Linked DNA regions of Homo sapiens: region 2 is linked to region 1. Evidence: fine-mapped expression QTL. A gene starts in region 1. The other region holds a variant in brackets. All regions are shown on one strand. Distances are from middle to middle.

The links. PIP is the estimated chance that this variant, and not a neighbour inherited with it, causes the effect. A credible set is the group of variants that fine-mapping cannot tell apart.
Region 2: its variant is the best candidate, but not a certain one, in a credible set for the expression of CEP350 in whole blood (INTERVAL, PIP 0.56).

The regions. Positions count from the first base shown.
Region 1 is chr1:179,947,165-179,963,737 of GRCh38, forward strand. It overlaps CEP350 (centrosomal protein 350), which reads left to right and starts at 7,646. Exons shown (of 38, transcript NM_014810.5): 1 at 7,646-7,978. It overlaps LOC101928933 (a long non-coding RNA gene), which reads right to left and starts at 5,314. Exons shown (of 4, transcript XR_241158.4): 1 at 5,102-5,314. RefSeq lists enhancers at 5,142-5,251, 7,342-7,843 and a silencer at 7,631-8,080.
Region 2 is chr1:180,130,780-180,147,352 of GRCh38, forward strand. No RefSeq gene overlaps it. Among named protein-coding and RNA genes, the nearest start is that of QSOX1, 16 kb to the right of the region's middle. The variant G/A (reference allele first, on the strand shown) is at 8,715.

The DNA of each region.
Region 1 (16,573 bases):
CTCAGGCAAGCCCCATGACTTTTCTCATCCATTGTAGTTAATAAAAGTCTTATATCACATTAGCTTGCAAACACAGTATTAATTTAGTAATAAAATATTCAGCCCAGTATATGAATCAACATTTTAATCTTTACTCAAAGGTACAACTTCTATCCGTTTTGATCTAGGACTTCCTGCATTAGTGCTGCCTCCTTCCATGAAGTGAGGCGTGGTCCTTCTTTTCTCCTTTCCTGTCTGGAGTATATCCGTTTCCTCAGGTTTGCTAATTATTATTCCTACCCTGCCCAGGGTGGAAGGCAGGGAACTGAGGAGTCAGGGAAGAGCCGTAAGGGATACAAGAACATTCTTACGTGACTGGTACTGTTGTAAGGTGGCTTTACCCCAGGCTTGGTAGATAGGTAAAGCCCATTGTTTCTCTTAGAGGTCCTGGGTTCTTTAAGGATTCTCCTGCTCAGCCTCTGCAGCTACAACTCTCTGGATGTGTATATTGCCTCCCCTTTGGGTGGCCACTCCCAGTGTCCTGTAGCCAAATATTCCTCTTTCTCTGGGGTCCACTCAAGCTGGTAGGCTGCCTCCTTAGGGGGATCCCTTCCATTTTATTTTATTTTATTTTTTTGAGACAGAGTCTGGCCCTGTCGCCCAGGCTAGAGTTCAGTGGTGTGATCTTGGCTCACTGCAACCTCCACCTTCTAGGTTTAAGCAATTCTCCTGCCTCAGCCTCCTGAGTAGCTGATTATAGGCACCCACAATCATGCCCAGCTAATTTTTGTATTTTTAGTAGAGACAGGGTTTTGCCATGTTGGCTAGGCTGGTCTTGAACTCCCGACCTTAGGTGATCCATCCACCTTGGACTTCAAAGTGCTGGGATTTTAATTTACTCCTCCTCCTTCTTCTTCTTTTCTTTAGGAAAATGCCTATTCTTTTTTTTTTTTTTTTTTTGAGACAGGGTCTCACTCTGTCACCCAGGCTGGAGTGTGGTGGCACGATCATGACTCACTGCAGCTTCGACCTCCTCGGCTCAAGTGATATCCCCACCTCAGCCTCTTGAGTAGCTGGGACTACAGTCCTGTGCCACCAAGCCCAGCTAATTTTTTGTAGAGACAAAGTTTCATCATGTTGCCCAGGCTGGTCTCGAACTCTGGGCTCAAGTGATCTGCCCACCTCGGCCTCCTAAAGTGTTGGGATTACAGGCATGAGCCACTGCACCTGGCCTAACTCCCATTTTAGAGCAGCAACACTTACCTTCCCTGCCACCATCCTCTACTCTGCTGTCAAGGTTGCTATGCCTTTTTCAGGCCTGAATCCAGCCACAGGCTACTCTGCCTTTCAGATTTTGGCCCACGCATCAAGCTCTCCATATTGTCTTCTCAATGCCCCTACTACGAGCTTGAGGTAAGGAAGAAGCCACCTCTGCACCCCACTGCCTATCCAAAGAAATCTTCCTGTCAAACCCTTTGAATCTACAATTTCTCCATCCTTTCATATCAGTGACCAGGTGGAAGGGTCTTGCATGAGGGGGTTCAAGAATCACATACTTTGTCTCATATATCTCCTCTTAAAATGTGCATCTTAAGGACCGGGCGCAGTGGTTCATGCCTGTAATCCCAGCACTTTGGGAGGTCAAGGCAGGCACATCACTTGAGATCAGGAGCTTGAGACCAGCCTGGCCAACATGGTGAAACCCTATCTCTAGTAATAATACAAAAATTTGCCAGGTGTGATGGTGTGCACCTGTAATTCCAGCTACTCGGGAGGCTGAGGCAGGAGAATCGCTTGAACCCGGGAGGCGGAGGTTGCAGTGAGTTGAGATCACGCCACTGCACTCCAGCCTGGGCAACAGAGCGAGACTCTGTATCAAAGAAAAAAAAAGTGCATCCTGACCAGCCTGGGCAACATGGCAAGACCTTGTCTCTGCAAAAATGCAAAAATACAAAAATTTGCCAGGCGTTGTGCATGTAGTCCCAGCTACTGGGGAGACTGAGGTAGGAGGATCACCTGAGCCCCAGAGGTTGAGACTGCAGTGAGCTGTGATCGTGCCGCTGCACTCCAGCCTGGGTGACAGAGTAAGACCTACTCTAAAAAATAAAAATAATTAAAATGTGCATCTTGTGCTCCTGTCTCACAACTTACTCTGGTTGCTGCTATCAGTTTGTTTTCGGACCTCACTCAAAAATTTCAATTTTTAACTTTCAATTGTAGTCAAATACGGTTAAATGCTGCCTTTGTAGATATGCCTATTTTTTTTTTTTTGCATTCTGGATTTGATATCACAGAGGTTTCTATAATCAATATTTCCTTTGCTGTATGCTCATGTACACATACTCACATATATACACACAAATATTTATATACATGAAGATAGATGGTTATGCCTATTTTCTTATCAAAGACATTTATTTTTGATAAATTTCAGTTTTTTCTTAATTCTGCCCAGCAGAATAACAAATCCCCTAGAAAAGTACAAGACTAAGCCAAAAGACCAACTCTAGAAAAAATAAAAGTAACCAGAAAACCTACCCCTAAACTTGGTATCTGCATAGTTTGTTAAAATGAAAGGGAGATTTGTTATGGTTGAATTTATTATTGAAAAGATGGTGGACAAGATTACAGATCAGACTTGGCATCTAGGCTTGACATTTCCTTAGGAATGCCTTTAGTTAATCCTGACACATATTTTTATTCAATTAACTACAAATAGTGAATGACATCATTACAGCACCAAAGCTGTATCTTTCCATTTCTTAGTTTGTTGTCTAGAGATTAATATCAAATTTTGCATTCCCAGGAAAGAAAACATCACTATTCACCTAGAATCTAAATTCAACAAATAAATTTAATTCAACAAATATTGAATACCTAATTATATGCAAGGCACTAATACAGTGTATTAAAAATAGTAAAAATAAGCAACATTTTTGAGCACCTATTATGTGCCAACTATATGTCCTTCACATGTGTTATTTCTTTTTCAACACAGCTTTATGGATATATACTTCACATATCATACAATTCACCTATTTAAAGCATACAATTGAATGGGTCTTAGTATGTTCACAGAGTTGTGCAACTGTTGCCACTATCAATTTTAGAACATTTTCATCGCATAAAAAAGAAACTCTGGGGCCGGGCACAGTGGCTCACGCCTGTAATCCCAGCACTTTGGGAGGCTGAGGCAGGCGGATCACCTGAGGTTGGGAGTTCGAGACCAGCGTGACCAACATGGAGAAACCCCATCTCTACTAAAAATACAAAATTAGCTGGGTGTGGTGGCGCATGCCTGTAATCCCAGCTACATGGGAGGCTGAGGCAGGAGAATAACTTGAACCCAGGAGGCAGAGGTTGCAGTGAGCCGAGATCGCACCATTGCACTCCAGCCTGGGCAACAAGAGCGAAACTCTGTAAGAAGAAAAGAAAAAGGCCAGGCACAGTGGCTCATGCCTGTAATCCCAGCACTTTGGGAGGCTGAGGTGGGCAGATTACCTGAGGTCAGGAATTCAAGACCAGCCTGGACAACATGGTGAAACCTCGTCTCTACAAAAATACAAAAATTCGTAGGGCATGATGGCGGATAGCATGTAATCCCAGCTACTCAGGAAGCTGAAGCGGAAGAATCGCTTGAACCTGGGGGGCAGAAGTTGCAGTGAGCTGAGATCATGCCATTGCACTCCAGCCTGGGCGACAGAGCGAGACTCCCTCTCAAAATAAAAGGAAACTCCATAACCACTAGTAGTCATTTCCCATTTCTCCTCCCCTCCCCTATGTCTATTCCACTTCTCTGCCCCAGGCAATCACTTATCTACCTTCTGTCTCTATATATTTGTATATTCTGAACACATTTTATATTCCTCTACATGTGTTATTTCTTTTCTTACACAACCCAGTGAGGTAGGTACCATTGCAATCTCCACTATACAGAAGTGGAAACTGAGTCACGAAGAGGTTAAGTACCCTGACCAAAGTTATATGGCTAGTAAGTAGCTCAGCCAGGCTTTATTTATTTATTTATTTGAGACAGAGTCTCACTCCATCACCCAGGCCAGAATGCAGTGGTGCAATCTTGGCTCGCTGTATCCTCTGCCTCCTGGGTTCAACTGATTCTCATGCCTCAGCCTGCCAAGTAGCTGGGACTACAGGCGTTCACCACCATGCCCGGCTAATTTTTCGTATTTTTGGTAGAGATGGGGTTTCATTATGTTGGCCAGTCTGGTGTCGAACTCCTGCCTTCAACTGATCCACCCACCCTGGCCTCCCAAAGTGCTGGGATTATAGGGGTGAGCCACCGCACCCGGCCTCAGCCAAGGTTTAAACCCAGAATTTAAATTCTAGGTGAATAGCTATGTTTTCTTTCCTGGGAATGCAAAATTTGATATTGATCTCTAGACAACGAATTAAGAAATAGATATAGCTTTGGCGATGTAATGATGTCATTCACTATGTGCAGAATTCATGCTTTTAATCCACTATGAAGGAGACAAAGGTCCTTAGAATCTAACATGATCATGATGTATAAGATACATGCAGAAATACTGATAGTAGATACCGCTCTATGCAGGAGACACAGCATCACACAGTTCAGGGGTGGAAGAGCACCTGGAAAGTATGAGCAATCAAGGATTTTTTTCTGTAGTAGTTAGCTTCTCAGTTGGCACTTAGAGAATGTGGCAGAAATTGCGAGCTGGGGTAATATGTGTTCCAGGTTAGGAAACAAAGGCCTAGAGGTAGGAATGAACAGGTTGTTTCTCCGATCCAGTGTGGCTTGAATGTAACATTCTCAGTCAGTGTATCACTTCCCATTTCGTGACATTAGCTACCGTTTATTTCTGTCTTTTAACGTCAAGCTCTTGACAGGTATTATTTCTAATCTTTAAGACAACCCTACAGGGTAGATATCATTAGCCTTGATATAGACAAGAAGATTGAGGTTCTTGAGGGGTCATAAGGCAAGTAAGTGATAGAGCCAAGATTTGAATAAGTGTCTTTCTGATGTCACATTCCTGCCCTTTCTACTTTATTGTGCTGTCTTACTTAAGGGAGATGGAAAGTTAGGTTGGTGCCATACTGAGAAAAGCCTTGATGGCTGAGGCGAAAAGTTTTTACTTACCTTGGCAGGTAGAGACATGATAGAGACAAAACTCAAGCTGAACTGTGGAAATACTACTATAATCATTTGGGCAGTAGAAATGACAGTCTAAATTAGGAAGGCAGTGGTGCAATCAGACAAAAGGGAAGTACATATAAGAAATATGCATCAGTGGTATTTAGAGACTTCATAACTGGGTGGGAGCAAGGCGTACAGAGGAGTATATAATATTTCTGAAACTTTGGTTCTCTTAGTTCTCAGAAGAGTGTTCTGTGACGGCCATGAACAGAAATACAGAGGAAACGAGGAGGAGCTGGCTTTGTGAGACTGAGGGAGGAAAAATGATAACCTTAATATGGGAGCTGAAGGTGCTGGTGACTTCTGTATCTATGTGAAGATGGGTAACGGGTAATTGGAGATTTAGTCTAGGGCCAAGATCCAGTTATCCAAAGAGTGGTGAGAGTCAAGGCCACAGTAATCAACAAAGAATATAAAGAAAAATGCAATCTTAGTGTCTACTAAAAAGTAGGAGAAACAAGGGAGCCATATTGAATACCTATTACCGGCCTAACACTGCGGAGACGTCTGGGAAGGGCCACAAACCTTTCCACAGTAAACCTCCAATCTTGTTCCAGAGATTAATTACTCTCATGAAACTATATGCAACTAGTACAAAACTTGATAGATTCAGGGCCAATCTGTAGGGTAAACACAAGAGTAACGGGATATTAGAAAAGAAAGACATTGATGTGCTTGGGGAATTTAGGAGGCGAGGAGAAGACAGACCAACACAAGGTATAAGAAGTAGAAATTGTGCATAGGCTGATACCAGGGTAACCCTGCTCTGAGCACAGTGACAGAACTTTGGTGTCTTCTCTGTTGTCAAGGGGATAGCATGGGGCTGAAAAAGTATAAACAGGCTTTGGGGCAAAGCAGATCCCAAAGCTTACAGCTCCCTTTTATTGATGGTATAAAATTGGGCAAATTACTTAGCTTTTTCAGTACTTGTTTCTTTTTCTTTCTTTCTTTCTTTTTTTTTATTTTTTTGAGATGGAGTCTCACTCTGTTGCCCAGGCTGGAGTGCAGTGGTGCGATCCCGGCTCACTGCAACCTCCGCCTCGCAGGTTCAAGCGATACTCCTGCCTCCGCCTCCCGAGTAGCTGGGATTACAGGCACCCGCCACCACGCCCGGCTAATTTTTGTATTTTTAGTAGAGACGGGGTTTCACCATCTTGGCCAGGCTGGTCTTGTACTCCTGACCTCGTGATCCACCCGCCTCGGCCCCGCAAAGTGCTGAGATTACAGGCGTGAGCCACTGTGACCGGCCAGTACGTGTTTCTTCGTTTTAAAAAAGTGAGTATATTTAATAAGGTGGTTGTTTACATTCAGTAAAATAGCGCATGAAAAGCATCTAACACAGGGCTTTAAACAGCAAGACTGGGCAAAACCTAAATAACATTTTCCTTATGTTGTCTTTTTTGCTACCACTTGCACCATACGATTACCCACATTTCCTGTCCCCTCCAGTGCAGCTTCCTGGAGACACTTCACACGTATGCAGGACTTCTGTACATCCTACTCAGGCACAGCTGTAGGCCCTACAAAGAGGGACCATTTACTGCCTCCTGCTGTCATTGATATTCGACAAACATTTATTGAGCACCTACAATGTCCTAGTTACTGTGCTAGGCCATTTTGGGGTATAGAGAGATAAAACAGATCTTAAAGTCTTCACGACACTTAAAGATGAGAAACAGTCTCTGGGTAAATAACTATCGGAGTTCAGAAGGTGGACAGAAGTGGTGGGCGGCGAGTCTGTGTGCAGTGAGCACCTAGCGGAAGATGGCATTATTTGCAGAAGAGAGGTCCTTTAAGCCAAGTCTTGATAGATGATTTCACCACGCGGAGATTGGGAAACGAGGACAAAGATATGAGAAGATATGTTGGCCACAGAGAGCCTCTCAAAGCACTGTTAAAGCAAAGCCAATACTTAATGGGAGGAAACTCCGTTTTACTTGCGTGGAGTCTTAAGTCATTAGATGCATGCTAAACAGAACTGTAACCCTCGCGAATAAAACGGCCACAGTGACAGCAGTGGGTAACGGCAGAGCTGCAACTACTCTGACAGGGGTGACGACTTATTTGGACGACAGTTGGTGAAACATTGTAAACTCTCAGAAGCTGCCGTTTCCAGACTTTGAGTTCATTCTTGTCGAATCCCCAGCTTGTTTTCTCAGCCCGGGGTGAAATGCGCAGCCAAAAGGCCCAATGAGCGTCAAAGCGAAAGGGCAGGGGTGGTCTCTTCTGCGGATATACCTTGGCTCCTCCCAAGTCCTACGAGTTTAAACTTCGACGCACCAAACATGGCTTCTTCGCGGTTCTGCTCCTTGTTTTATTTCGCTCCCACCTTTCGGCCACACTCAACATGGCCCTAACCGAAGGTTGGCATGCCTGTGGCACTGTCTCGGGACAGTTCTCGCGAGGTTTGCCTGGGCCCGACTGCTCCCGCCCTGCCTCGCGCCGCCGCCACAGCCGCTGCCGCTGGCGCCGCTCCTCCTCCGTGTCAGTTGTTGGGCTGTAATGGCGACTGGGCCGCCCCTGACGAAGTGACTCCCGGGCCGGGGAGCGGGGCCAGACCTGCGCCAGAGAGAACTGCAGGGAGCCGCAGCTCGGGGGGTGGCTTGCCCTGAGGGAGGGGAGGCAGCCTTTCCGCCTTGTCTTCCTTCCCAGCGGACCGGCGGATCCCCGGAGCCGGTGCGAGGAGGGCACCCGGTGCGTCCCCGGAGCGGGGAGGCCAGGCCGGGCAGCCCTGGGGCCGGTCGGGGCGGCGTCACTGCACCCTCCGCCAGGCTCCGCGGGATGCACCGTGGTAGCCGAGGGCGGAGGCGACACTCTCAGGTGAGCTCCTGTAGGACCTGGCTGGGACCGCGGAGTCTCGCTCAGCCTCAACTGTCTCTGTCCGCGGTCCCGGGTCCCCGGTGGCGGCAAGAGAGGCGGGGCCGGGCGCGGAGAGTCTTGGCCCTGCTTGGCGTCCCCCTCGGGGAACCTCCCTGGGTTCTGAGGCTTTTCGGGGACCTAGGTTTCGGGTCCCACCAGTGCCTGCTGAAGACGGAATTTCCTTCCTTACGTGCCAGTGTCCTCCCGCCTCCTCCACCCCTCCTCTAGCCTGCAGAGGTAAGATACCTCTAGCCTTTGCTGCCCGGAGAAGTGTCCCTTCTTCATCTGGCGATCAGGCGTATTTGGGGAGATTCCGGGGACTGGCTCCAGTGGCAGGGATGATCAGTTTCTGTTCCTTTTCAGTGGGGATCACATTCTCAAGTATAGGGAAAACTTTGATCTACTCTAGTCTAGCGGCTGCTGAAGGTAGTTTATTCACAGATAATTTGGGGAAAGATTTAAAAGGCTTTATGTTTTGGAAGTTGTCAGTATTTTCCTCTGCCTTTTAAATGCAGCTCAACATGCTAAGTAATATTTAGCTAATGTCACAAGATATGAATTGGAATTTGCCTGGATTTTAAATATTCAGATAGAAAGTTGCACATAGGCATAGATTTTAATGTTTTAATGCAGTAGCAAATCCTTCATATGGGAAAAAACAGGTTGTCAGAAATAGTGATCAATATCCATGTACTCCACCTGATTGTTTTGTTTTGATGGTGATCCTTGTTTTGAATTTGGGGAAGTCGTTATTGTTGCCATGTTAACGATACCTCCTGCCCTGTATTTGAAGAGTTTTAAAAGAAAGACTATCTTTGGCAGAGCTAGTAACAATCTGAAAAGTTCTGTAGAAACAATGATAAAATACTAAAAGTTGCCCTCCATTCTGAAAATTTCTTCGTTTAATATATTGTTTTTAAACAAGGAAATGCACTGCTAATGACATGGAATTGTGACTTTGAGGGATTGTTAGACCCATGCTGGAAGTTGCTTCAAAGCCATGGGCGTATAATAATTAGTTTCGGTGTGCTAAATTGACAAATTTTATTTAATGTAATGAAATAAATCTGAATCATTTGAACTGTCAGTGCATTAAATTTAAGATACTGTAATCTGAAAATAAACTTCAAGCTAGAATACATTGTATATGTGGATAAATACATGTGTATCTCTGTATCTCTTCATCCTCAGTAGCAAAATTTTGTGTATGTAGAGATGGCAAGTTGTATATGTAAAAAATTTCATACGTATGTGAACATATTTCTTTGATTTTCTGAGATAAATTGGTGTGTGTGTCATGTAAGAGCGTTAATACTTAAACAGCCAACCTTCTGTGGGGCAATCAATTTATGAATTATAAAGTTTTTGGATTTTTTCCTTCTGCTTCTGATTGTCAGTCTTTTGCCCATTTTATAACACTTCTACCATATATGAGCAGAAGAAAGGAGATGAAGTACTGCTATAATCAATTTTATTTGTTAAATTGCTATAATTTATAGTGGGAGCAAAAAAGAAGTCTAAAATAACTGACATCAGTTTTTGGTGTGCTTCTATATACATTATTTTATTTAGTTTTCACAGTGATCTTGTGAAGTAGGTATGGCAGATATCCTTATTTTGCAGTCGTGGAAACTGACACACAAGGAAGATCATTTATGTGAATGCCTCTCATTTCTGCAGATAATGTGGAATTATTTTTATTTTAAACTAAATATTAATATAGGTGCTCTGGCATTTGGTGTTATTTTAAAATATTAAAAAATTATTCTATTTTTGTTCCTTTTTACATGCCACTTGCCCCTTATGCTGATGATCGTCAGTTCTTTAAAAACATTAGTATTTTTATAACGTTTTGTTAATTATTGACAAGTCATGAATTATGATGGATCACTTACTTCTTTATGTATATACTTTTTGCTTGAACAAGATTATTAAAGTGTAGTTCATTTATTATCTTTCACTTTGGATACTCAGTTCTGTCATCTTTATTCTTTCAGTCATTTATACTCTTAGTTATGTAAAACAAACATTCAAGCCACATGATCAGTAACATAACTGAAAAGTAGTAATATCTTGATGATTTTATTGTTGAGACAACTGATGATTTAAAAAGTTAATTCTCTGCATATAATTGTGATTGTTATTTTTGCAACATGAGGCAAATTTTAGTGTTATAGTGTAAAAAAATCATCAGATTGCATAGTATTTTTTTCTGTATTGATTTGTTGTTGTTGTTGTTCATTGTTATCATAAGTGTGATTTTACATTTACTTGTGGTTATTTTGAGTTATTCTTTGCCTTTCTCATCTGGTCTGTAAGTTCCATGATGGCAGAGATCCTTTAATCACTATTATGCACCCAGTGCCTAGCATATGGTAACATAGTCAATAAATACTAATTGAAGAAATTGACTAAAGAATAGTCCCAGAATAATATTTTAAATGCAAAACAAAACAAAAGACTAGTTCTTAGTTCCTAAGCACACCTCAACTCTTGGGAATATATTCCAGAGATATGCTCAGATTTGCTGGGTAGCAAGGGAATGACAGCCTGGGATTAAAAAGCCACTGGGAATAAGCCACAGTGGAAACTTCATTTACTATTTTAATGATTTGCCTAGGTGCTCTGGCAACAGGTTACGGTAATTTAAAGAAAATATAAACTTTAAGACCCTAACCTGTTATACTAGTACTATAATTATAGCCTTGTAATAACTTTAAGTCACTTCTTAATCTCAGTATTGGGAGTTTAAATTCTTCAAGGCCAGCTAGTCCAATTCCCATATTTTATACATAAGAAAACAGAAGGTTGTATAGGGGCGATATCTCATGCATAGTTGATTTCATAACTGGGAGAAGAATCCATTGCACAGCTGCTAAGTCTACATTTGTTTAATATGTCAGATAATTATAAAATCAGAACATAATTGTGATCAACTTGGCAGTCTATTCAGTATTAATTAAAAACTCAAAATGGGCCTTTTTTTTCATGAATCCAAAGTGTTAACTTAAAAATGAATCTGAACCCTTTCCTCTGTAGTTGGGACTATAAATTGATACCATTGGAGCAACCTTCTGGAAGGAAATTTGGCATTCCCTATCAAGATTAAAAGTATATATATTGTTTGATAGAATCATTTCCTGCTTAAAATTTATGTTACATAAATTTTAACAGCATAGGAATTGTATAAGAATGTTTATATTAGCATTATTTCAAGATGTCAATAACATTTATAAATAATTTAAAAATGTCCTAAATGTCTGTTGGTAGGCTAATAGTTAAAAGTCTAGTATTTTTATGCTGTGAATTACTGTGCAGTTGTTAACAGGTTTCAGGGTATCTATATTTACTTCATGAGCAGCAGCTGAGCATATCCTTCAGCTCCTGGAACCATGCGGTGGACCTTCTGGATTCAAAACCTAACTGCACTACTTTCTAGCTGTGACTCTTGGCGAATTACTTAAAGTCAACTATAAATTGGATATACTAGTAGTTCTCATGTTACAGGGGTACCATGAGAATTAAATGAGTTAACAGTTAGGCCCTAAATAAGCATTAATAAGCGCCACATAAGTGTTTGCTGTTACAATTATGTATTGACTTGGAAGAATGTTCATGATATAAAATTAAGTGAAAAAATAAGTTGCACTATACTATAGAATATGATTTATTTAAAAAACACATAGACAAATGTAGTTTTGTTTTCATTTTGCATGTGAATAGAAAAAGGTCTATAAGGATAGACATTAAACATGTTATTCCTGAGGGAGTGGATGACTTTTCTTTTTTACTTTAGACATTTTTGTATGGTTTTATTGTAAGAATCACTTTTATAATTTTTGAAACTTTTTTCTAAAAAAAGGAAGTAAATTTTTTCTTCTATTAAATAGTGATATAAATGTATTTTTGAATGTGATTTTTAGAGATCTACACATTTCATCAACAGAGTGTCTCATAATTAGATCCTGTGTCAAAACATTTGTTGATGGAAGGGCTGGGACTTGGTGGCTCACGCCTGTAATCCCAGCTCTTAGAGAGGCCGAGGCAAGTGGGTCACTTGAGGTCAGGAGTTCGAGACCGGCCTGGCCAACAAGGCGAAACCCATCTCTACTAAAAATACGAAAACTAGCAAGGCGTGGTGGCAGGCCTGTAATCCCAGCTACTGGGGAGGCCAAGGCAGGAGAATTGCTTGAACCAGGGAGGTGGAGGTTGCAGTGAGCCAAGACTGCCACTGCACTCCAGCCTGGGCAACAGAGCAAGACTCCATCTCAAAACAAACAAAACTTTTGTTGGCTGGGTGCGGTGTCTCATGCCTATAATCCCAGCACTTTGGGAGGCTGAGGCGGGCAGATCACCTGAGATTAGGAGCTTCAGACCAGCCTGGCCAACATAAGGAAACCCCATCTCTACTAAAAGTAAAAAACTAGCTGGGCATGGTGGCAGGCTCCTATAATCCCAGCTGCTGGGGAAGCTGAGGCAGGAGAATTGCTTGAACCTGAGTGGCAGAGGTTGCAGTGAGCCAAGATTGCACCACTGCACTCCAGCCTAGGTGACAGAGGAAGACTCTGGCTCAAAACAGACAAACAAACAAAAAAACTTTTGTTGGCAGAAGGTTGAAATTTAGGAAAATCTATAATAAATATATTTGTTTTTCTCCTAGCTTTGTAGCCTTAAGTCTTATTTCTTACTTTACAAAGTAAACCCGTAGGCTAGATCAGTGTTTCTTAAATCCAGTATTCCTAAACTGTGCACTGAAGTAAATCCTCACTTAATGTTGTCCATAAGTACTTGGAAACTGCAACTTCTAAGACCCCAAACACCTCTAATATTAAACATTGAAATAAATGGGTCCTATGCATACATTTAAGAAATACTAAAAACAAGATAATTACCCACTTATTTCAGTTCAGGATGGCAGGTGGCTGGAGCCTGTCCCGGCAAGTAGGGCACAAGATAGGCTGCCATTCCATTGCAGGTAGCATTTACAGACACACACACACCCACCCACCCACCCACATTCACTCAGACTGGGACCATATAGACATGCCAATTCATGTCAGTTCACCTAATGCGTGCACCTCTCTGATGTGGGAGGAAACTGGAGCATACGGAGAAAAGCCACACAGACATGGGGAGAACATGCAGGCTCCACATAGATGGTAGCCCTGGTGGGGAAATCAAAATTTTTTTCTCATCAAAATTGTGAAGAAATGATATTGAATGAAACTATGTTATGGAGGACCTGCCGTACTGTGGAGCACCATAGTAACTCACCTGGACACTATGCATTATTTGAGAAATTTTAATGGAAACAGCAATATTGGATAGCTGTGGGATATTTGACATCTATAGGACACTACTCAAACTACCAGTTTGAGATACCACACAAGAGATTGTGTTCCATTTTTTTTGATGACACTGTGTCTTCCAAACGCTAGGTTTTGGGAGTTTGCTGTGATAAAAAGCAAGTACTATGCAAAAATCAATTTGGAACAGTAAATGAAGGTGGTGGTGTCCAAAATGATTTCAAGATTTGAGAACTTGTGTAATATCTAGTAGGTACACACATCCTATTAAGTAGTTGTGGTAATTTAGTAATAAAAATATTTATTTCAATTTATACATATTTATTTTTCGATCTGCTACTAAGTTGGTAGGCTATAAATACTTTTTAGGTTGTGGACTGAACTACTTAGTAAATGGAACTGTTAGGTATTTTTTTGGCCTAGGGGTTCCATGAAAAAAATAACTGGCATACTGAGGGGTCTGTGAACTGAGAAAGTTTAGGAACCTCTTGAACTTTTGACCAGGACACCTATATATATTTTCCATGTTCTGTGCTCCCAAAGGTTGATTTTTTACATTTATCTTTATTTTTTATTTTTTTAAATAAAAAGAATAGATGTGTGTTATACGTGTATGTGTATACATATAATGAATCAAAAGTTTCACTTTTCAAAGTTTTACTTTAAACAGCCTCATGGCCAGGCGCGGTGGCTCATGCCTATAATGCCAGCACTTTGGAAGGCCGAGGTAGGCAGATCATTTGAGGTCAGGAGTTCAAGACCAACCTGGCCAACGTGGTGAAACACCATCTCTACTAAAAATACAAAAAAATTAGCTCGGCGTGGTGGCGCGCACCTGTAATCCCAGTTACTCAGTAGGCTAAGGCAGGAGAATCACTTGAACCTGGGAGGTGTAGGTTGCAGTGAGCCGAGATCGCGTCACTGCACTCCAGCCAGGGCGACAGAGAGACTGTGTCTCAAAAATAAAATAAAATAAAATAAAGCGCTCACTACCTTCAATACACTTGATATTTGCAAATCAATCCTATTTAGTTCCATTAAAAAAATGCTAGCTCCAATCCACGATATTGTTTTGTTTTGTTTTAATCTACTAACGGGTCATGACTACACACTTGATAATATGATGCTGGTTGACTCCTAACGTCCAGCTTTAATACGGTTTGTTTCTCTGGTTAGTTATAAATGAAGTTAGACTACGCTTTAGCTTTTATTTTAGATTTGGGTTGTGGGGGATACACGTGCAGGTTCGTTACATGGGTATATTGCATCATGCTGAGGTTTGGGCTTCTGTTGAACCTATCACTGAAATAGCGAACATAGTACCCAGTAGGTTGTTTTTCAACCTTTACCCCTTACCTGTCACTTCCCACCTTTTTTTTTGAGATGGAGTCTCTGTCACCCAGGCTGGAGTGCAGTGGCTTGATCTAGGCTCATTGCAACTTCTGCCTCCCAGGTTTAAGCGATTCTCCTGCCTCAGCCTCCCGAGTAGCTTGGACTACAGGTACGAGCCACCATGCCCGGCTAATTTTTTGTATTTTTAGGAGAGATGGGGTTTCACCATGTTGGCCAGGCTGGTCTCAAACTTGTGAGCTCAAGTGGTCTGCCCACCTTGGCCTCCCAAGGTACTGGTATTACAGGCGTGAGCCACCACGCCCGGCCCTTTCCCACTTTTGGAATCCACAGTATCTTATTTTCATCTTTATGTCTATATTTACCTATTGTTTAGACCCCACTTACAAGTGAGAGAAGGTGTGATATTTGATTTTCTGTTTCTGCATTAATTTGCTTAGGATAATGACCTCCAGCTGCATCCATGTTGCTCCAAAGGACATGATTTCATTCATTTTTATGGCTACGTAGTATTCCACGGTGTATATGTACCACATTTTCTTTATCTAATCTACTGTTTTTTGTTTGTTTGTTTGTTTTGTTTTGTTTTTGAGGCAGAGTCTCGCTCTGTTGCTCACGCTGGAGCGCAGTGACGTGATCTTGGCTCACTGCAACTTCCGCCTCCCGGGTCCAAGCAATTCTCCTGCCTCAGCCTCCTGAGTAGCTGGGATTACAGGCACATGCCACCATGCCTGGCTGATTTTTGTATTTTTAGTAGAGATGGAGTTTCACTATGTTGGTCAGGCTGGTCTCAAACTCCTGACCTCATGATCTGCCCACCTCGGCCTCCCAAAGTGCTGGGATTACAGGCATGAGCCACTGCTCCCGGCCTATCTGATCTACTGTTGATAGGTACTTAGTTTGATTCAATGACTTTGCTGTTGTGAATAGTGCTGTGATAAACATACTAGTGCAGTGTCTTTTTGATAGAATGATTTCTTTTCCTTTGGATAGATACCCAGTAGTGGGAATGCTGGGTCTAATGATAGTTCTAAGTTCTTTGAGAAATCCCTCTACTCTTTTCCACAGGGGTTGAACTAATTTACATTCCCACCAGCAGTGTATGATACTCCCTTTTCTCTGCATCCTTGTCATCTGTTATTTTTTAACTCTTTAATAATAGCAATTCTGACTGGTGTGAGATGGTATCAGTGTGGTTTTAATTTGTATTTTATTGATGATTAGTGATTCTGAGCATTTTTTTCATATGTTTGTTGGCCACTTGTATGTCTTCTTTTGAGAAGTATCCGTTTATGTCCATTGCTCACTTTTTAATGGAGTTATTTTTTTTTTCTTGTTCATTTGTTTGAGATTCCTTGTAGATTCTGGATCCTAGTCCTTTGTCAGATGTACAGTTTGCAAATATTTTTTTCCCATTCTTTAGGTTACCTCTTTACTTTGTTGATTCTTTTGCTATGTAGAAGCTTTTTAGTTTAATTAAATCTTGTTTATGAATTTTTGTTTTGTTGCATTTGCCTTTGAGGTTTTAGTCATAAATTCTTTGCCTAGGCCCATGTGCAGAAGAGTTTTTCCTAGGTTTTTTAAAATAGGATCTTTATAGTTTGAGGTTTTATGTTTAAGTCTTTAATACGTCTTGAGTTAATTTTTGTATGTGGTGAAAGGTAGGGGGTCCAGTTTCATTCTTCTGCACATGCTAGCCAGTTTTTTTGTGTGTTTTTTGGGTTTTTTTTTCTTTTTAGCACTGTTTATTGAATAGGTGTCCTTTCCCCATTTTTGCTTTTGTCAGCTTTGTTCAAGATCAACTGGTTATAGGTGTATGGCTTTATTTCTGGGTTCTCTATTCTGTTACATTGATACAGATGTCTGTTTTTGTATTGGTAACATGCTGTTTTGGTTAGGA
Region 2 (16,573 bases), 180 kb after region 1:
CAAAGTGCTGGGATTACAGGCATGAGCCACCACGCCAGCCTGCAGATGGTATTTACAAGGGACAAAATCGGATGGGATTGCTTGCAGAGAACATGTAGGAGATAAGAAGGCTGAAGGCTGATGGCTGAGGGCCTCTCACATTCAGAGCTGTGGGATGATTAAGAGCCAGTAAAGGAGACTGAGAAGGAGTTGCTGGGGAAGTAGGAAGAGAACAAGCAGATGACATGGTAGGCTCAACAGTGGGCACCAGAATGTCCATACCCTAATCTGAGGAACATGTGAATATGTTACCTTAGGTGACAAAAGGGACCTTGCAGGTGCAACTGAGGTTAAGGAGTTTGGGATGGAGAAATTATCCTGGATTATCTCAGTGGGCCCAATCTAACCACCCGATTCTTTACAAATACACAAGGCAGCAGTGGGAGTCAGAGAGGTGTGATGATGAAAGGGGCTCAGAAGATGTAAAACACGAGGAAGAATTGACCCACCACTGCCGGCTCTCAAGATGGAGAAGCCAAAAATTCAGGTGACCTCTAGAAACTGGGAACGGCCCTCAGCTGACAGCCAGCCCAGACACAGGACCTCAGTCCTTCAGCCGCAAGGACTGAATTCTTCTAATAAACTGAATGATTAAGGAAATGGATTTGCCCCTAGAACCTCTGGCAAAGAATCTAACTCTGCCAACACTCTGATTTTAGCCCAGTGAGCCCCATGTTGGATTTCTGAACTACAGAACTATAAAATAATAAATTTGCATAGTTGTAAGCCACAAAATCTGTGGTAATCTGTTATTGCAGCAAGCCAGTGAATGTATGTGGTTTAAACTAAAAGCTGAAGGAAGAACGTGTTTCAAGAAGGAGGGGGCCATCAGCTGTGTTGCAAGCTGCTGAGAGGTTGAGTCAGAGGAAGACAGACATAACCTTTGAATGGGGCAACGCAGAGACTGCCACTGACCTCGACCAGCAGTTTCAGTGGAATGGTGAGATCAGAACGCAGACGGGAGTGGGGCAGGCCATGAAGGTCAGGGTGATGATGCAGTGAAGACAGACAACTCTTGTCAAGTTTTGAAGAGGGGGGAGGAAATGGGGCAGTATCTGGAGAAGGGTGTATGTTCATACAAGAGTTCCACTTTGTTTTAGTGAGAGACAGAGAGCAGGTTGTTTGCTGAAGGAATTGACCTTGTGGGGGAGAAAAAGTGAGATTTGCGAGTGGGGTTGGGGGACCAGCAGCAAAGTGGGATCCAGAGTGCAAGTGGAGGGGCCGGTGTTGATGGGAGGAAGGGGCAGGAGGGAAGACAGAAGATGAGTCTGGGCGCGAGGTGGCTTCTAGCTTGATGGTGGGAGGAAAAGGAGTTCCAGTCTGATGGCTTCTATTTTGTCATCAAAGTGACCGAAGTGAGGTCTTGTGTGAATGTACAAGGGGGAAGAAAGCATGCTGGAGGCTTGAGGAGCGAGAAAAGGGTATAGAATGGCTCACCCTGGAGCCTGGGAAGCAACCTGATGATAGAAGCGGAGCCCGCTGCCCCAGGAAGGAACTGGCCTCTGCTGCCTCTTTCACCTTCCTGGCGCGGTCCTGGGGGTGGTCTGCTGGGTTCAGGTTGGGCTGTGGAGTATGTTCTTACTCACTAGGCAGGTAACCCAAGCAGCTTTTATAGCCTTGGTCTCTTCACCACCATCATCTTAGTCATGCTTGCCCTGCCTACTTCCATCAAAGGAGGCAGCAAGTGCTGCATGGACAGTCAGGCGCTGTCTGAGTGGGAGTCATGGTTTTTTCCTTATGGATGGAGTCCATCCTGTAATACCTGGCCAGTGAGGAGATCCCCAGCAAGCTAGAGATGAGCACAGAGGGAGAGCGTCTGTCTAGCTCGCAGCAATGGCCTCTGCCTTCTGAGATCGCTTCCTTCGTAAGCGTAAGCAGTAACTTCCACCTCCACCCGGTCCCCAAGAGGCCTGACAGACTCCCAGCCTGGGTTTACTTTCCTGGGGCAATAGTAATATGAATCCACATAGAGGCTTGGTCCCCATGGGGTGCTCCTCCAGCCATAGTGTCTGCAGCTGTCATCTGGCTAGATGAAGGAAGGGAAACCAGGGCCTGATGCTGTCCTGCCATTTGCTGAATGTCACCCTCCAGGGTAGCCCAAGAAGAAGCAGTAAGTCTTCCAATGTGAGTTTCCTGTAAAAGTTCTTTGGTGACGTAGGGCTTTTTGTGTAGGTGATTTGGGAAGGGGCAACTTTACAAAAATCAGATAAGCTGGGTGGGTGGCTCATGCCTCTAATCCCAGTACTTTGGACAGCCAAGGTGGGAGGATTACTTGAGCCCAGGAGTTCAAGACCAGCCTGGGCAACATAACAAGACCCCATCTCTACAAAAAAAAATTTTAAATTAGCCAGGGCTGGTAGCCTGTGGCTGTTGTCCCAGCTACTCAAGAGGCTGAGGTAGAAGGATCACTTGAGTCTAGGAGGTCAAGGCTGTAGTGAGCTGTAATTGTGCCACTATACTCCAGCCTGGGCAACAGAGCAAAACTCCATCTAGAAACAAAACAAAACAAAACAAAAATAGATCAATAAGCCTCATTGTGACCAAAGAGAGGTAGTGTTCTCCCAGTGAAAAGCAGGAGTCAGGGAGCTCAAGGACTTTGTCCAGGATCAAACACAGGTCAGCTGAGGACCTAGGAATCCAATTAGTTTGACTTGACTCCAAGCTCATGTTTTATTCTACCATACGAAACTGCTTCCCTGGATCCAACCAGCCTGCCTGCTTCCCAGCAAAGGGAAGAGGAGGGAAGGAGCCAGCATTTACCAAGCACTTGTTTACCAGGGGTCCTGCTCTTTGCAGTTCACAGTCGGGGGAAGGAGCACCCCTAGATGGCCAAGAGGCTGTTTCATGATTAACCCCTGCCAATCGGAGGTCTATGGGAAACAGGTATGCTCTGGCTGAAAGCCATGCTGAGTTCAACATGTCATCCTGGTCACCAAAGATAAAAGGATCAGGAAAATAACAGCACAAGTAGATACTACATTCTCCTCTCCAAATACCTTCTCTCCTCCTCCTCTCAGTCCCCAAATGCCATTTTTCCCCGAAATGGAAAGTAGGAGATAAAACTATCAGGGAGATGAGGTCGGCGCGGTGACTTACGCCTGTAATCCCAGCACTTTGGGAGCCCAAGGTGGGCGGATCACGAGGTCAGGAGTTTGAGACCAGCCTGGCCAACATGGTGAAAATCTGTCTCTACTAAAAATACAAAAAATAGCTGGGCGTGGTGGTGCACGCCTGTAATCCCAGCTACTCAAGAGGCTGAGGCAGAGAATTGCTTGAATCCAGGAGGCAGAGGTTGCAGTGAGCTGAGATTGTGCCACTGCACTCCAGCCTGGGCGACAGAGCAAGACTCTGTCTCAAAAAAAAAAAAAACTATTAGGGAGATGAAAGTGAAATGGAACTCCTTCTGATCTCACAGAAACATTCAAACAGTGGAGGAGAAAGGCATAGGAAAGAAACTGGATAAGGTATATAAAGAGAAACAAGCACATAGCCCCTCCAAGGGATTTTGCCAAACGCTTCACTTCTGCTCTTTATCCACTTGTGATATTTGTAGATGACATAAGCTGGTTATGTGGCAGCTCTATGGACTTACTGTTGCATTGTTCAAGGCCAAGTTTCCCAAAAGGAGCTGGGGAATAACATAATGTTGAGTCCAGAACGTTCCTTTGGCAGAGTTTTATGTTAGAATCTTAATACAGAAATGAGAAGAGAAGGAATACACTGATAATATTTATTTTATATTTACAGTGGGATCCTGGTAAAAGGTGTTGGCACCCTTTCAAAAAATTGTTGGTACCTTTGTACAGAGCTGTGGTCATATCAATTGGCACAATACTTTTGGAAATTACAATTGTTCCGTGAAAGGGCCATTTACGCAGAGTGATGCCCAAGTGTCAAAGAAGTCCAGAAACCAAAGCAGGAGGCTGTCAAATCCAGTTTGTTGATTTTAGGTCACTTACTAGGGCAACTTAAAGACAGAAGCATGCTCTTGGGCAGCCACGAGATACGTAGGTCTCTGTACTGCAACCCCCGAAACCCAGGGCCTCTATCTCGGGGAAAAAGTGTATGTGCTCTGAAAGTGTATGTGGAATATAATGTATCTGGAAGTATACGTGCTCTGGGAAGTGTAGGTGGCTACCAGCATCACAGCCTATTTCTGCAACAGCATCAAGGGTTGCTTTGGAGGAAAAGCAAAACTTGAAATGAAGAGGTATTCCCACAGAAAGAGTAATACATCAACTAGACATTTTGTTCCTGGACTTGAAGTTAGTCAGGTAGATTAGCATTTAAAATAAAGTCACTCTTGGCTGGGCACAGTGACTAATGCCTGTAAATCTCAGCACTTTGGGAGGCCGAGGTGGAAGGATCACTTGAGCCAAGGAGTTTGAGACCACCCTGGACAACATAGCAAGACTTCATCTCTATTAAAAAAAAAAAGTAGCTGGGTATGGTGGCACACATCTTCAGTCCCAGGTATTCAGGAGGCTGAGGCAGGAGGATCGTTTGAGCCAGGAGGTCGAGGTTGCAGTGAACTAAGATCATGCCACTGCACTCCAGCATGGTGGACAGAACAAAACCCTGTCTCAAAAGAAAAAAAGCCACTCTTGTCCACAACAATTTGTACCATGAACCACAAAATTTTTCATATATATTTTGACCTAATGAACTTTTTGAGGAAAAAGAGATAAACACCAAAGATATGCATAAACGTTTATGACTATAAAACATTAAAAATAACCATAATATTCAATGTTGTAGAAATAATGGAGTAAACTGTTACCCACTCATTTGGCAGAATATTTTACAACCACTGTAATTAGTGGTGTGCTGGACTCAGCCCATACTGGCTTGAGAGAGCCAATTGTGTGCATTCTTCCCAACTCTGCATTCCATGATGTCATGTCAGTAGCATGAAATCAGCCATGGTGGGAGTATTTACACGAGAGAAATTGGCAAACACTACCAATTAGGGCTTACCCCATCCCCAGAGAGCAAGTTGTTAAAACATTTTCCAGCACACCATTGGTAAGTGGTATATATAAAAAAGATACAAAATTATAAGTGTACCATTGTCATAACAATGTTAAAAATGAATATAAAGATAAGACATGGAAGGGACTATAGATGAGCTGAAAAAAGATTGTGGATAACTTATTTTTTTATTTCAAGCTCTGTTTATTGCTATAGTCTTATTTATATAAAAACACATTTTTTAAATGTTTAAATCTGGTCTTCTGTTTTCACTATGACCAAATAATTTCCTATGAATTCATCCTCTCACATATACAAAATATAATCTCTGGAAAACACACACACACACACACACACACACACACACACACACACACAAACTGCATACAGACACTGGAGAGTGAAAAAGGCAGGCAGATTCTGAAGCAGAGTCAACATTTGGAAGAGGGAAACAATATAAAATAAAGTGTCCCATTTTTATGACAGTTAATTTGAAGGCAGGCTGCAGTTGGTACTGTGTGTAGAGCAGCTAAAACTTTGGTGGGAAATTAGCAATATTTTCTGGCCTGAAGACCAGGAGACACAGTTTAGGGCACCTAAAGCCATTTAGAAAATGAGGAGGGAATCCCAGAAGTGAGAGTCAGAGAAGGGAATTCTCAAGTTCTGTGCATAAACTGCCCACATTGCTGGCTGCCCTGGATCACACATATGTGGTACACATTCAAACCAGCCCAGCTTGAGCTAGAAGACGTGAACTGATTTTGAGCTGCTGCCCAAGATACAGCATTTGTAGCTAACATCCAGCCAAGTTAACTCGCTTGTTCCTAAAACCAAACCAAACCAAAAAGCCAACTCTCTGGAAAAAACAACAGAATCCAAAGTCTCCACAGCATAACACTGACAATGTCTTAGAAAAAATCCAAGAATATCTGACATATAAAGAACCAGGAAAATGTAGTCTATTCTCAACGGAAAAGAATCACAAAATGACTCAGATCCTGGAATCAGGAAACACGACTTTAAAGCAGCTATATAAGCATGATTGATGAGGTAAGAAAAAACATACCTGCAATAAATGGAAAAGTAGGGAATCTCAGAAGAATCTACAAGAGTTTCTATAGACATCATAGAAGTAATTAAGTAAAATTCTAGGACTAAAAATTACAAGATCTAAAAGAAAAAATTATGGAATGGGCTTAACAGAATGATGATGAATCAAGAAAAAAATCCATAAACTTGAGGTTGGGTCAATAGAACTTACTCAATCTGAGAACAGAGAGAAAAACAAAATTGAAAAAATCTGAAAAGGGTTTCAGAGACCTGTGGAATCTGTGGAACCTGTGGAACCTGTGGAACCTGTGTCTAACATACTTACAGTTGAAGTCACAGAAGGAAAAGAATGAGAGAATGTAACAAAAAATATTAGAAGAAATAATGGCTGGACCTTTCCCAAATATGATGAAAGACATAAATTTATTGATTTAAGAAACTCAATAAACCTGAGGCAGAATAATTATGAACAGGACCATGTCTAAGCACATCATAGTCAAACTATTGAAAAGCAAAATGAATGAGATAGCGGTCAGAGAAAAACAACATATTACATACAAGGAACAAATATGTGAATGACTGCTAATTTCTCATCAATAGTCATAAAAACATCCTTAAAGTGCTGAAAGAAAAAATACATTCAATTCTATAGCTAATGAAAATATCCTTCAAGAATGCGGGCAAATAAAGACATTTTCAGATAAAACAAAATTGAGAAAACTCATTGCCATCAGAGCTCTACAGGAAATTATAAAGTTTTTCTTCATGCTAAAGGAAAATAATACCAGATCAACACTTGGATCTTCAAGGAAGAATAAAGGGTATTGAAAATGGTTACTATCTAAATAAATAGAAAAGACTATTTTTCCTCTTAATTTCTTTAAAAATATATGACTACAATTTGAATTTTAAAAACTAATATTTTTTGTGGGTGGTTTTATAAGTAGATATAATTAATAGATATGACAACTATAATATAAAGCACGGGTTGGCAAACATTTTCTGTAGAGGGCAAGATAGGAAATATTTGGATTGGGGCCATAGAATCTCTGTCACAAAGACTCAACTCTGCCACTTGTAGCCATATAAAAACCAAAAGTAATGGCCGTGGCAGTGTTCCAATAAAACTTTATGTACAAAATATGCAGCAGGCAGGAACTGTTCTTTATAACAGGAACCACTGTTATAAAGAACAGAGGCAGCAGGGTAGCAGATGGACTTACACAATTATGAAGTTTCTGCATTTTATGTGAAGTACAATATTAGCTCTAAATAGACTGTGAAGAGTTTATGTAAAGTATAATATTAACTCTAAGTGGACTGTGAGAAGTTAGTGTCTCTCAATAGCAGCACTATTCACATTTTGGCCAGATAATTCTTTGTGGTGGGGGGCTGTCCTGAGCAATGAAGGATGTTTATCAGCATCTCTGGCTTCTACCCCTACCCACTAAATGTCAGTAGTGCCACCCTACCTAGCTGTGTCAACTAAAAATGCCTTCAGACATTGCCAACTGTCCACTGGAGGGGTAAATGTCCACTGCCCCCCTTGTAAGAACCAATGACCTAACGTAACCACTAAAAATTGCAGAGGCATAACCAAAAAGCCAATAGATACATTAAAATGGAATTCTAGAAAAGATTCACATAGTCCAAAAGAAGGCAGGAAAGGGAAAAACAAACAACAGAGAGTAAAACAGAAGATAACAAAGCAAGACATAAGTCCAACCATATCAATATTGCATTGTTAGTTAATTGGATACTCCAATTAAAAGGCAGAGATTGTGAGAATGAATGAAAAAGCAAGACCCAACTACATGTTGTCTCAAAAGACATACTTTTAATATGAAGACATAAATAACTTGAAAGTAAATGAATAGAAAAAGCTACGCCATGTAAACTGTAAAAGATTGAGAAGACTGCAGTGGGGTATATATGTATATATACATATATATATAAAAGTGGGGTATATATGTATATATATACATATATATGTGTGTATATGTGTGTGTATATATATATAAGTGGGGTATATATGTATATATATACACATATATATGTGTGTGGGTATATATATATAAGTGGGGTATATATGTATATATATACATATATATGTGTGTGTATATATATATATATAAGTGGGGTATATATGTATATATACACATATATATGTGGGGTATATATATGTATACATATTTACATATCCTCCTTTATATATATCCTCCTCATATATATATATCCTCCTTAGCAGCAATACAATGGATATATTAATAACAGATAAATAACAGCAATAGATATATTAATAACAGATAAAATAATGGATATATTAATAACAGATAAAACAGAATTCAAGGTTAAGAAGTACTACCACAGATAAAAACAGGCAGTTTGTAATGATAGAAGGATCAATTCATCAGGAAGCCATAACGATTATAAACATGTGCGTTCTTCTTCATAACAGAGACTAAGATACATGAAGCAAAAGTCAACAGAAAGGCCAGGCATGGTGGCTCATGCCTGTAATCCCAGCACTTTGGGAGGCCGAGGCGGGCAGATCACGAGGTCAGGAGGTCAGGAGATCGAGACCATCCTGGCTAACATGGTGAAACTCTGTCTCTACTAAAAATACAAAAAATTAGGCAGGCATGGTGGCAGGC[G/A]CCTGTAGTCCCAGCTACTCGGGAGACTGAGGCAGGAGAATCGCTTGAACCCAGGAGGTGGAGGTTGCAGTGAGCTGAGATCGCGCCACTGCACTTCAGCCTGGGTGACAGAGCAAGACTCCGTCTCAAAAAAAAAAAAAAAAATCAACAAAAGAGAAAAAGACAGTCCCACAATTACAGTAAGAGATTTTTAATCTCTCTCTCTCTCTCAGCAATTGATAGAACAAGTCAGTAAAGACAAGATGGTTGGACAACACTGTCAATTGCCTTGACCTAACTGATAATTACAGAACACAACACTCAACAACTGTAGAATGCACATCACTCTAAAGTGAGTGTGGCATCTTTACCAAGAATGACCATATGCAGGACCACAAAAACAAAGCTCAAGAAATTGAGAAGAGTTAAAACTATACACATTTTAAAATACAACTTCAGGCCGGATGCAGTGGCTCATGCCCATGATCCCCATGCTTCCGGAGACCAAGGCGGGAGGATCACTTGAGGCCAGGAGTTCAAGACCAGCCTAGGTGATACAGCAAGACCCCATCTCTACAAAAACTAAATTAAAAAAATTATCCAGTTGTAGTGGCGCATTGCTGTAGTCCCAGCTACTTGGGAGGCTGAGGCAGGAGGATCGCTTAATTAAGCACATGAGGTTGAGGCTACACTGAGCTATGATTATGCCACTGCACTCTGCCTGGGTGACAGGGTGAGAATCTGATTCTAAAATAAACTAATTAACAAAATAAAATAACCCCCAATACAATTAAATTGGAAATTAATCACATTAAGATATTTAAGAAAATCCCAAACATTTGGAAATTAAATAATTTATTTCTCAATAATTCATGGCTCAAAGAAAACAACACACAGAAAATCAGAATAAACATTTTTCAAGCCAGTGTAGGGAGGAAATATATTTATTTGAACATGGAATTAGAAGTTTATAAGTACCAATGTAGAGGCTTCTTGTTACAATGACATTGCTAAGGAAAAGATATAGTAATGCAGGAGGAAGGGGATTCTAAAGAGGCTGGTGACAAAAAGCTCTCAGGAGAGAACATTTGAACTAAGACCTAATTAATGAGGTATACAGTTGTCCCTCTCTATCCATGGGGGATTTGTTCCAGGATCCCTGAAGATACCCAAATCCACAGATGCTCAAATGCCTGATATAAAATGGCATAGTATTTGCACATAACGTATGCACATCTTCCCATATACTTTAAATCATCTCTAGATTGCTTATAGTACCTATTACAATGCCTCCACATCACTTCATTCATGTGGAATTAGTGTAGTAATCACCACATGCAAATTCAAGTTTTACTTTTTGTAACTTTGTGGAATTTTTTCACCCTGAATATTTGCAGTCCATGGTTGGTTGAATCCTTGGGTACAGAACAGAAGGCCAATTGTAAAATCAAATAAACAAACGTGTTATCAGTTGAATCGTACTTCCCCAAAAGATGTTGTGGTCCTAGGCTGGGGCCCGGTGTTCCATGCCTGTAATCCCAGCACTTTGGGAGGCCAAGGTGGGTAGATTGCTTGAGCCCAGGAGTTTGAGACCAGCCTGGGCAACATGGTGAAATATCACCTCTACAAAAAATACAAAAATTAGCTGGGCATGGTGGTGCACACCTGTAGTCCCAGCTACCTGGGAGGCTGAGGCGGGAGGATTGCTTAAGCCCGGGAATTCAAGGCTGCAGTGAGCCATGATCTTACCACTGCACTCTAGCCTGGGCAGCAGAGCAAGACCCTGCCTTGCCTCAAAAATAAAAAACAAAACTGAAATACTAACCCCATCCCATACCTCAAAATGCGACCTTATTTGGAGATAGGATCTTTACAGAGGTAATCAAGTTAAGATGAGGTCATTAGGATGGTCCTAATCCCATATGACAGTGTCTTTACACAAAGGAGAACTTTGGAGACAGAGGGAAGGTGCTGGGAAGCACCAGGAGTTTGTGTTTGCAAGCTAGGGAATGGCTGAGGCTAAGAGAGAGCCCGAGCTACCAGGGAGGCCTGAACACACCCTCCCTCGCAGCCCTCAGAAGAAGCCAACCCTGAAGACACTTGGATTTGGGCCTTCTGGCTCCAGACCTATGAGCAAATACATTTTTGAAGCACTCATCTTGAACTTCTGGCCTTGTTGAAGTCACCCAGTTTGTGGTACTTTGTTAAGGGCAGCCCAAGGAAACTATTTGAGTAACAGAGTAAATAAGGGGAGTGGGCCACTTAGCATTCCCCTTCCCTGACTCGTTTCAAGGAGCCACAAGAAGAGCATGCAGGCAGAAAGAACAGCGGGGACGGGGGCCTGAGGCAGGAGCCAGCAGAGACATCCTGTAGGCATGGCGGCCACACCACCCAGGCCAGTGGGCTTTCCTAGGCCTTCAGAACATACCTGCAGATGAGGAGAGGGAATGATCTCACAAAATTCATATTAATAAACGTCTATCTAAATGGTCTAGATGTAATTAAGTCCTTACTACCTATTACATGTATTAATCATAAAAAAATTGCATTACATTTGAGCACAATTTGTTGGTTAGACTTTCTGGCTCTGTAGTAACTTCTCCATGTGCAAAGTAACTGCTGAGAAATCATAGCCAATTATAAAATAAAGGAGTTTCTCAAAGTTAATTTCCAAAGCAAAATTCTAAACATTGCTTCCAAAGAGTTTATTCAGCAAAAAATATTGAAAGATGATAGTGCATTTGAATATGACATGGGGGAGGGGCTACCAAGTTAACACTACTTAAGCCAATGGTAGTCTTAAGACCACCCCAGCGGTCACAGGTTGGTGGTGTGGCGTGAGAAGCGCAGGGCAGGGGGAGTGGGAGACCCTGTCTGAGAGGCAGGCAGTACCTGTAGGTCTACACAGAATGTGAATTTTCTAAGTGGATGGAAAGTCACTGGAAAGTTTTAAGCAGGGACTGAGGTGCTCTGGGAAAGACTCTAGAGGGGAGAGACCAGGAAGAATTCTGGGACCAACAGGCTAGGACAGCCTCTTTGCCTCTCTGTGTCCTAGAAACCTACTTCAGATCTGAGTTGGGCACAGAACTCTGGTGACAGTGCAGCAGAAGCATTAAGAATCCCCTCCTGGCTGAGCGTGGTGGCTCACACCTGTAATCTCAGCACTTTGGGAGGCTGACGCGGGCAGATCACTTGAGGTCAGGAGTTTGAGACCAGCCTGGCCAACGTGGTGAAACCTCATCTCCACTAAAAATACAAAAATTAGCTGGGCGTGGTGGCACACGCCTGTAATTCCAGCTACTTGGGAGGCTGAGGCAGGAGAATCACTTGAACCCAGGAGGTGGAGGTTGCAGTGAGCCAAGATCACACCACTGCACTCCAGCCTGGGCAACAGAGCAAAATTCTGTCTCAAAAAAGAATCCCCTCCCCTGCCTAACTGCTGCCTACTCCCCCAACTTCAGCTCTCAGCCTAGGGAAGCTTCTCTGACTCCTTCTCTATTACTGCACCCCCGGCACTCCACAGTTCTTCTTTGTTACCTTCTCACGCTTTACCATGATATACTTTTTTGTGCAACTCTTTGATCAGTGTCTCTTCCTCTAAACTGTAAACTACTAGAGAGCAAGGACCATGTCTTGCATTTACTACCAGGGGCGGATTTGGGTTTTCTGCAGTCTGAATATTTTACCATTGGGGAAGCAGGGGGATAGGGGTTGGTGGGGAGGGAGGCTCTCTTTAAGAAAATAAATACACAATTACAAATACAAAATTAAGTATAAATGAGTATTCATTTAGAGAATCAGGATCACAACAAATTCCTAGATCTTAAGAGGTTTAGGTCCCCTTTGAGGAGTTCACTTAGACAATTTAGCAGAAACACTGAAGTGTTTTCTGAAGGTAGCCAGGCTTCCTCTCTCTACCTAAAACATTCTACACCTCCGAGCACTCACATGGGCTTTGTGGGTGAGCTTCATCCTCATTAGCTGCTCAGTATGCCCATCTTTGTTCATCACTATATTGCCAGCACCTGGCATCATGCTGGTTATATAGATGCTCAATGATTCATGGCTATTATGATAATTTTTATTTTAAACCAACATTTCCTGAGCATCTACAAGGACGTGCAAAGACAAGCAAGGACAAGAGAGATCTGGTCTCATACAATTAGTGAATGGTAAGGGAGACAATCGCAGCTGTCATTACTTTTTTTTTTTTTTTTTTTTAGACAGGGTCTTGCTCTGTCACCCAGGCTGGAGTGCAGTGGTGTGATCACAGCTCACTGCAGCCTTGAATTCCTGGGCTCAAGTGATCTTCCCACCTCAGCCTCCTGAGTAGCTGGGACCACAGGCATGCCACCACCATGCTCGGCTTATATTTTGATTTTTTGGTAGAGATGGGTTCTTGCTATGTTGCTTGGGCTGGACTCGAACTCCTGAGCTTAAGTGATCCTCCTGCTTTGGCCTCCCAAAGTATTGGGATTACAGATGTGAGCCACTGACCTGGCTTGTGATTACTTTTAAGACAAGATTAATAATATAAACAAGTTGCCAGAAAGGACAGGCAGAAAGGTAACTTGTTTCAGGTAGTAAGACAAAGTTAGGAAGAGGAGCCCCTAATGTCAGCTAGAAAAATTTGAGCTCACCAAGTAGCTGACAGGGTATTTTATGTTTTTATAAAAGTACAGTAGTAGACAAGACATTCCAACTCCCCCTACTAGACCAGAAGTTGCAGTACCCAGCTGCAGGTGAGGCAGGGCCAACCACCAACTGCAGAGCTTGGCATATGAACGGCTATGTCTGCGCACAGCCAGCCCAGAAAGCCCATATGTCCAACAGAAGCATCCTCTAAAGGAGACTTGTTCCACAGACAACAGCACGGAGCAACTGGGTAAATAGAGAAGAAGGGGTGGAGCCTCAAGAATCCTTTAGAATGTCTGCTGAGAGCAAGGCTGTCTTAAAGTAAGAATGAGACATCTGGATGCTAATGTGGTCATCACCTGGGACCATAAAAACACTCAATATTTCATTTGGACAATTATTCAGCAAGCGTTACTTGAATGCCTACGTGGGCTAGGCAAATTCTTGCAAGACATTCTTTTTTCTCTGTATGCTTCTCTCCCCCTTTTTTGCACCCAAGTGGCTTAAGTCAAGTTTTCCTAAACACCTGGAAATCTCAGTACATTCATGACGCATCTTAACATGGGTATTGTGGCCTCCAGATGTACTCACACCTCAGCCTTTCCTATGAGTTTAGCCCTATTCTGTCTCAAGCCCTGTGCTGGACTCTTTCATTCTCCCATTTGATCCGTACAACCTTATCCCTCCCAGTGGTGGTCATTGTCCACTTTGGTCTGTACAGCCCCACGTGACCTCTTCCTCTGGTAACAGTACGCCTTCCTTACTCCAAACATGCAGTACCAGTGAAGGCTGCCAATTACAGTGCTTACTCTCCTACCTATAGGAATGAGCACATTGCCCCGGATGACCCATCTCCCTGACTATAGCGACTGATCTAGGCATGAACACATAACCCAAGCCTGGCCAATCAGTTCCCCCCAGTGTTTTTCTAACTAGGGTCAGCAGAGAAGCTCTGTCTTTTCTCTCTGACCTCAAAAATGAAAGCGTGTGACCAGAGTTCTAGCCTTCTGGAAGCAGCTGGGCTGAGAGAATGAAGCCAAAGTACAGAGACTAGAAGTGCAGAGAGGAAAGATGGTGTCACAGCTTTCCCCTACCCTCTATTTGGCTCTTTGAGGCAATCAGTTCCCCTTTCCTGCCACAGCTAGTTCAATTTAGCATCTTTTTGAGTGTAACTGAGAGTCCTGTCTAAGGAACTCCTTTATACAGACAAATCCCATAATCTCAGGGAGCCCCTTCAGCTGGCAAGAGGCTCAGCTTTTGTTCCCGAGTCTGAGATGCCCTTGAAGTTCTCTTGCTTCCTCCTTAGCTTCCCCCTCCACACTGGCTCCAGCACAGATCTCTGAACCAAATGCTCAGAGCTCAGAACCAAATATCCATGTTAGCACTGTTAAGACAGGGTAGATTATCAAAGAACTAACTAAAATTCTGAGTGGTAACAGCAAGGAAACAAACAACATGAGGTAACAAATGTACAAAACAGACAAGATGATAGAGAAGTCTTCAGCTAGATTGCTTCGGGGCCTGCGGGCCTATTCTACCTCATAAGCTATCTGAAAATTGCTTCATTCTCATCCTGAAGATGTGGGAAAAGATTTTAGCAATCCAGTCTGGATTCCTGGCTTCCTAACTATGAGTCTGACCCCACACGGAGGACATAGTTTTAAAAATTAACTAATTAAAAAATTAAAATGTAGCAAACTAAATTGATCTATAAATGTAATGCAATCTCAGTCAAAATCTCAATAGGCTTCCTATTTTTTAAAAGAAGCCAACAAGCTGATTCTAAAATTCATATGAAATGCTAAGAACTAGAATAACCAAAACAATTCAAAAAAGAGAAATAAAACTGGGGGATTGCTACCAATTAATATAAAGAATTACAGGCCAGGCACAGTGGCTCACGCCTGTGATCCCAGCACTTTGGGAGGCTGAGGCGGGTGGATCACCTGAGGTCAGGAGTTTGAGACCAGCCTGGCCAACATGGCAAAACCCTGTCTCAACTAAAAATACAAAAATTAGCCGGGTGTAGTGGCGCATGCCTGTAATCCTAGCTACTGAGGAGGCTGAGGCAGGAGAATTGCTTGAACCCGGGAGACGGAGGTTGCAGTGAGCTGACACTGTGCCACTGCACTCCAGCCTGGGCGACAAGAATGAAACTCCATCTCAAATAAATAAATAAATTAATAAATAAATAAATATCTCTCCAGCAATTCCACTCCTAGGAATATACCCAAGTGGACTGAAACATATGTTCATACAAAAACATATACACAAATGTTCATAGCAGCATTATTTATATAGCCAAAAGGTGAAAACAACTCAACTAATAAAACTCAATGGAATGTTATTGGGTCACTTAAAGGAGTGAAATGCTGACACATGCTCCAACAGGGATGACCCTCGAAAATATTATGCTAAGTAAAAGCATCCAAACACAAAAGGCTACATATTCTAAGATTCCATTTTAGACACAGAAATTAGGTTAGTGGTTTTCAGGGGTCAACAGGAAGTGGGGAGTAATTGCTAATGGGTTCCTTTTGGAGTTATAAAAATGTTCTGAAGTTAGATAATGATGATGGTGGCACAACTTTGTGACTATACTAAAAACCACTGAATTGTATACTTTAAAGGGGTAAATTTTATGGTATATAAAATTTTATCTCATTAAAAGACTTACTATGATGCTATAGTAATCAAGGCAGTGTGATACCAGCACAAGGATACCATATGTGTCATATACACATGTATTTTAGTGGAACAGAATTGGGTCTAGAAATAGATTCACACATATATGGTAAATTACTTTTTGAAAACTCTGCCAAGGCAGTTCCATAAGGAAAAGATAGTCCTTTCAATAAATGTTGCTAAGACAACTGGATATTTCTATGGAGATAAATGAACTTTGACCCTTACCCTTATATACAAAAATTAACTTGATATGAATCAAAGACCTAAATGTAAGAGTTAAAACTATAAAATTTATAAAAGAAAACATACAAGAAAAGGCTGGGCATGGTGGCTCATGCCAGTAATCCCAGCACTTTGGGAGGATGACATGAGAGGATTGCTTGAGCCTAGAAGTTCGAGACCAGTCTGGACAACATAGTGAGACCATGCTGCTATAAAAAAATAAAAAATTAGCTGGGCATTGTAGAGTGCCTGTGGTTCCAGCTACTCAGAGGCCGAGGTGGGAGGATCGCTTGAGCCTAGGAGGTCGAGGCTGCAGGGAGCTGTGATCGTGCCAC